2 separate regions of the Homo sapiens genome follow, and region 2 is linked to region 1. Evidence: fine-mapped QTL for protein levels in blood plasma. A gene starts in region 1. The other region holds a variant in brackets. All regions are shown on one strand. Distances are between the middles of the regions. Region 1 holds the start of SELE (selectin E). Region 2 overlaps SELP (selectin P).

Evidence for each region. PIP is the chance, under the fine-mapping model, that this variant and not a neighbour inherited with it causes the effect. The UK Biobank Pharma Proteomics Project read protein levels with antibody pairs (Olink). The fine-mapping took linkage between variants from a reference panel, not from the people measured, so its PIPs are less certain.
Region 2: its variant is fine-mapped to the plasma level of the SELE protein (UK Biobank, PIP above 0.99).

The regions. Positions count from the first base shown.
Region 1 is chr1:169,733,834-169,736,752 of GRCh38, reverse strand. It overlaps SELE (selectin E), which reads left to right and starts at 2,674. Exons shown (of 14, transcript NM_000450.2): 1 at 2,674-2,782.
Region 2 is chr1:169,608,845-169,611,763 of GRCh38, reverse strand. It overlaps SELP (selectin P), which reads left to right. Exons shown (of 17, transcript NM_003005.4): 7 at 87-272; 8 at 2,075-2,260. Among named protein-coding and RNA genes, the nearest start is that of SELP, 20 kb to the left of the region's middle. The variant G/A (reference allele first, on the strand shown) is at 1,357.

The DNA.
Region 1 (2,919 bases):
GAATGAGATAAAATCCCCAGATTCTCAATTTCCTCATCTGTAAAATGGGGATAATAGGAGTACCTATTTCATAGGCTGTTGTACGGATTGAATAATCAATAGGTGAACATACAAAATGCTCAGAATATGGCCTGGCACATAGTAAGCACTCAATAAATGTTAGAGATTATAATTGGGGGTCCAGGACATATATATGTAAGTAAAATAGAAACTTCATCACCACTGGGGCTATTTTTAGATATCTTTGAACTAATTTTAAAAAGGGGAAGAGATAAACTATAAACTTAGTTATGAAAAATTCGCAATAATAAAGTTAGTTATCTAGGGATGTTAACGACTAATTTCTATTAGCAATATAATTATTAGGTACTTTATTGATATCGAAGATAAATTGTTTTTTAAGATTTGGCTACTCTATACATTTGACCATGCTTTTTAAAAATAGCAGATTATGTATTCATACTTTATTAAAAATAAAATACATACAGATAATGTATTAACCCAACTTGACATTCTGCCCTAAAATCTAAATAAACACTATATGAGTGATTACTCTTCTGAATTTATTGAAGCAACAACCACATTGAGCTAAGTAAAGTGGGATAAAGAATTGGAATAATGTCAGTATCTGGATCATGTAAGAGAGTGGTAAGGTGGAGGGAATAAATTCTATGCTTTTTGATAGGGGTTGAATTAAATTCGTTAATTAAGTTATTTTTTTCTAATCAGTTGTCTTTTTTGGAATTTTTCTTCTCTTTTCTTGTTTTTTTTTTGGGTCTTGACATCTTTATGAACACAGAAAGACCAGTGCTAACAAGTAAAGAGAAAAACGAGGCTTTTACCACTACTCGTTCAGGTCTGCTGACAGTACATTTTTAGATAGACCTCCTATTTTGAAAGGCTGTAGATATAGAATATTAGCTTGACTTGAGCTCTGAAAACCTACAGAATATGGAAATTAAAATGATCCCCATTTACTGTTACCATCATTTAGATAGGGTAAGATGCAGAGATGGGGAATGTATACAATCACCCAGAAGAAATGTCAAAATGAAGAGCAGGAATATAGGATACCACATACATCTCCTTCTGTTGCATTTGGAAACAAATTTCTTTTCTTTTCTTTTTCTTTTTTTCTTTTTTTTTGAGATGGAGTCTTGCTCTGTCGCCCAGGCTGGAGTGCAATGGTGTGATTTCAGCTCACTGCAACCTCTGCCTCCTGGGTTCAAGCGATTCTCTTGCATCAGGCTCCCCAGTAGCTGGGATTACAGGCATGCGCCACTACACCCCGGCTAATTTTTGTATTTTTAGTAGAGACAGGGTTTCACCATATTGGCCACGCTGGTCTGGAACTCCTGACCTCAGGTGATCCACCCACCTCAGCCTCCCAAAGTGCTGGGATTACAGGCATGAGCCATCATGCCTGGCCTAGAGACAAGTTTCTTTAAACTGTATTCTTGTTACTATAAAGGTGAAAAAAAGGGAAATTGAAAAAAACTTTAAAATCCTGAAAATAATAATGAAGGATATAAAAATTATCCCAAATCCTGCCATCCAGAGTTAGTCACTGTTAACATTGTGGAAGAATTTTTATTCTTTGCACATTAACATTTCAAAAATTTTAAACAAAATTTTGACCAATTAAATATATATATATAGTTTTCCGTTTTATTTTTTTTCTTTTCTTTTCTTTTTTTTTTTTTTTTTTTAAGACAGAGTTTCACTCGTTTCCCAGGCTGGAGTGCACTGGCGTGATCTTGGCTCACTGCAACCTCCACTTCCCGGGTTCAAGCGATTCTCCTGCCTCAGCCTCCCGAGTAGCTGGGATTACAGGCATGCGCCACCATGCCCAGCTAATTTTGTATTTTTAGTAGAGATGGCGTTTCTCCATGTTGGTCAGGCTGGTCTTGAACTCCCGGCCTCAGGTGATCCGCCTGCCTCGGCCTCCCAAAGTGGTGGGATTACAGGCGTGAGCCACTGTGCCTGGCCTCCTTTTTATTTTTTTCACTGAACAAACCATGAAACTTTCCCAGATGTAAATATCTATTTCCCATTTTTCTTTTTTTAAAATAAGGCATTATTTTAACCATTTGAGTGTTAGATATTATTTTTAGATAATATTTTAATTTAGGCATAACTGCCGTGCAAAATCTGAAGATTAATATCTACCTTGTGAGTCATTCCTCTGTGAGACAGTGCATGTTAAATATGTTGAATTGGCAGGTGAAAAAGGAAGAAAAAATGAGTAGTGATTGGTTATCCACAGCTATGAATGAGAAATTGAAGGTAGTAGACTATGGATGACAAACCTATTCTTGGTTTCCTTCTGTTTCTGAAATTCTAATTACTACCACAACTACATGAGAGACACTACTAACAAGCAAAGTTTTACAACTTTTTAAAGACATAGACTTTATGTTATTATAATTAAAAATCATGCATTTTTGTCATATTAATAAAATTGCATATACGATATAAAGGCATGGACAAAGGTGAAGTAGCTTCAAGAGACAGAGTTTCTGACATCATTGTAATTTTAAGCATCGTGGATATTCCCGGGAAAGTTTTTGGATGCCATTGGGGATTTCCTCTTTACTGGATGTGGACAATATCCTCCTATTATTCACAGGAAGCAATCCCTCCTATAAAAGGGCCTCAGCCGAAGTAGTGTTCAGCTGTTCTTGGCTGACTTCACATCAAAACTCCTATACTGACCTGAGACAGAGGCAGCAGTGATACCCACCTGAGAGATCCTGTGTTTGAACAACTGCTTCCCAAAACGGTAAGTGCAGAACGCTTTATAAGGGCAGCCTCGGGCCATGAAACACAGATATGCAAAAGGCCTTCTAATAAAAACCACATCTGTACAAGCTCTTATTGTATTGTAGCTAAAACCTGTCTTTTCTCTTTGACCTAAAT
Region 2 (2,919 bases), 120 kb after region 1:
TTTCAGAGGTGGTTCCACCATTGCTCTCTGTGTGGCTTTTCTCCTTTCTCAGTATCTTTCTCTTTATCCTTGGTTATTCTCTCCAGCTGTGCAGTGTCAGCACCTGGAAGCCCCCAGTGAAGGAACCATGGACTGTGTTCATCCGCTCACTGCTTTTGCCTATGGCTCCAGCTGTAAATTTGAGTGCCAGCCCGGCTACAGAGTGAGGGGCTTGGACATGCTCCGCTGCATTGACTCTGGACACTGGTCTGCACCCTTGCCAACCTGTGAGGGTAGGATTTTTCATTAGCAACCTCCATTCTGTCCAAGAAGGAATCATGGCATGGTAGAGAGGCCAAGGGCTCTCAGTGTCGGGGTGATCTCTTCTAAGTTCTTGCACTAGAGCAAGCTCTTCAACCTCCAGGAACCATGGTTTTCTCATCTGTGAAATGGAGCTAAGAATTGCAAGGTGCTTGTGAGGATTAAGTACATAAAAAGTATACAATTAAATAGCATGTATAAAGTACCTAGCATAGAGCTTCTGCTCTACTGACATATCCGAGGTATAGGACCATGTCCTATACTTGAGAGGGAGTTGGGAGCAGCGGCTAAGGTGGCTAAAGAGAGTGGTTCACCATGTAGTCTTTGAGGGTAGCCTTTGACAAAGAAGCAAAGGAAGGAACACTGCATCGAAAAAGTGTGTGATGCAATCCCAGGCAATTACATAATTCCGCCAAAATGAATTCTCTGCAATTGCCTCACACCCTCAGTTTATAAGGCGGACAGTGGTAATGGGAGAATAGGAAATTTACGATAGATTAGTGAATTCCCAGACCTGGATGACAAGCCCAACCCTGCTACTATCTAGCTATGAGACTTTAGAGAAGTCACTTAACACTTCTGAACCTCACTTTTCTTGCCTAAAACATAAGAGAGAAGAGAGAAACACTAGAGGATTTTGGTGTTTTTGTTTGTTTGTTTGTTTGTTTGTTTGTTTGTTTGTTTTGAGACAGAGTCTCACTCTGTCGCCCAGGCTGAAGTGCAGTGGCACGATCTCAGCTCACTGCAACCTCTGCCTCCCAGGTTCAAACGATTCTCCTGCCTCAGCCTCCCGAATAGCTAGGATTACAGGCAACTTTTTGTATTTTTAATAGAGACTAGGGTTTCACCACTTTGGCCAGGCTGGTCTCAAACTCCCGACCTCAAGTGATTCACTCACATCAGCCTCTCAAAGTGCTGGGATTATAGGTGTGAGCCATTGTGCTCAGCCGGATTTTTGGTTCTTAAATGCTCTGAGTCTGTAAAAACCAGAGGTCAAAGCCCAGAGCAAAGAGGTAGTCTTTACACTTTGAAAAGTTTCAGAAATAGCCTGGAAAT[G/A]AAATGCTTTATCAAGGAAGAGCATGAGGAAACCAATCTTTATCAGAACTGAGGTCACTCAGGGCTTAATTGTGCTCAGGAATTCACTTTGGCTGCACTCACTTGGCAACTGAAGTCTGATTAGGATGACATCCTGTGTTCTAGAGACAAAGCCCGGTCAGGATCATTTTACAGGACTAGGTAACAGTGTCAACAATAAGCTATGCTAGTCCAGCTTTTTTTTTTTTCCCTATAAGTCCAGCATTTTCCTGTATATACTCTTTTCAGGTTCAATTTCACAGATAATGTCAATATTTAATGAGCACTTTCAATGTACAAAACACTCTGCTCAGCTCCAGAATAAAACTATGAATGACTGAGCCCAACTTCGAGGAGACCACGGTATAATGGGGAAGAATGACAATCATGTATGAACAGCGCAAGAACAGAGGCTGTGGGAGCACATTGCAGGGGCTTCTACCCTTAGTTAAGGTGGGAAGGGAGGGCTTCCTAAGGAAAGGGAAGTCTAAGCTGAGACCTGAAGGGCAGGTGAGAGTGAGTCAGGCCAAGAGGGGCATGGGAAGGTGTTCCAGGCAGTCTCTCTTTTGGAAAATGGAGGTTTTAGGGTTCTGAACACACTGAAAATGTGGACAGGAAAGATATAGCATCTAGGAATTTTTTCTGAGGAAGAACCCGGCCCTTCCATTACCTGGCTTTAGAAGATACCTTTTCCACTTAGCTATTTCGTGTGAGCCGCTGGAGAGTCCTGTCCACGGAAGCATGGATTGCTCTCCATCCTTGAGAGCGTTTCAGTATGACACCAACTGTAGCTTCCGCTGTGCTGAAGGTTTCATGCTGAGAGGAGCCGATATAGTTCGGTGTGATAACTTGGGACAGTGGACAGCACCAGCCCCAGTCTGTCAAGGTACTGTAACAGTGGTAATGTTTTTCTGTGTGTCTCAGCTCGTTAGAGGCATCAGCATCTGCACTGAGCATTGGCATGCCTTTCTTTATCAGATATTCACTGAGAACCTACTATGGGCCATGTCCTTTGTGCTTGGGACCAGGGATGAGATGAAACGGTGCGTGAAGCCAGTCTTAGGCACATGTCCACTATAGTATAGTCAAGGTGAGGTTTGCACTGATTGACACATATAGGGTGCATTGGAATGAAGAAGATGGGGCTTGGGGGAATAAATCATGCATGAGGAATAGCATGGGATGGGGAAGGGTAATGGACAAGGTGTTTAGCTCAGTCCTGTCACTTCCTGTCCTTAAGCTAGTGGTTTAGACTCTCTGAGGCTCAGTATCTTCTGTAAAATGGGGCTACTATTATCAGCCTTACCTACCTGCCTCACTAGTAGTTGTGAATTAATGTGTGTAAACGCAACTTTAAAACTCTTATAGGATTTATAGGGAAAATGATGATGATGACATGTTACCTTATAAATCACATGTCTGTGGTCTGATTTGACAAAATGATCCTCTTTCAATATGTTAGGTTTCTAATCTTTTGCTCTTATACTAAGGCACTCATGGGGGGCGGGTGTGGTGGTTCACAAGGATTATTATTTTTTTTACGAG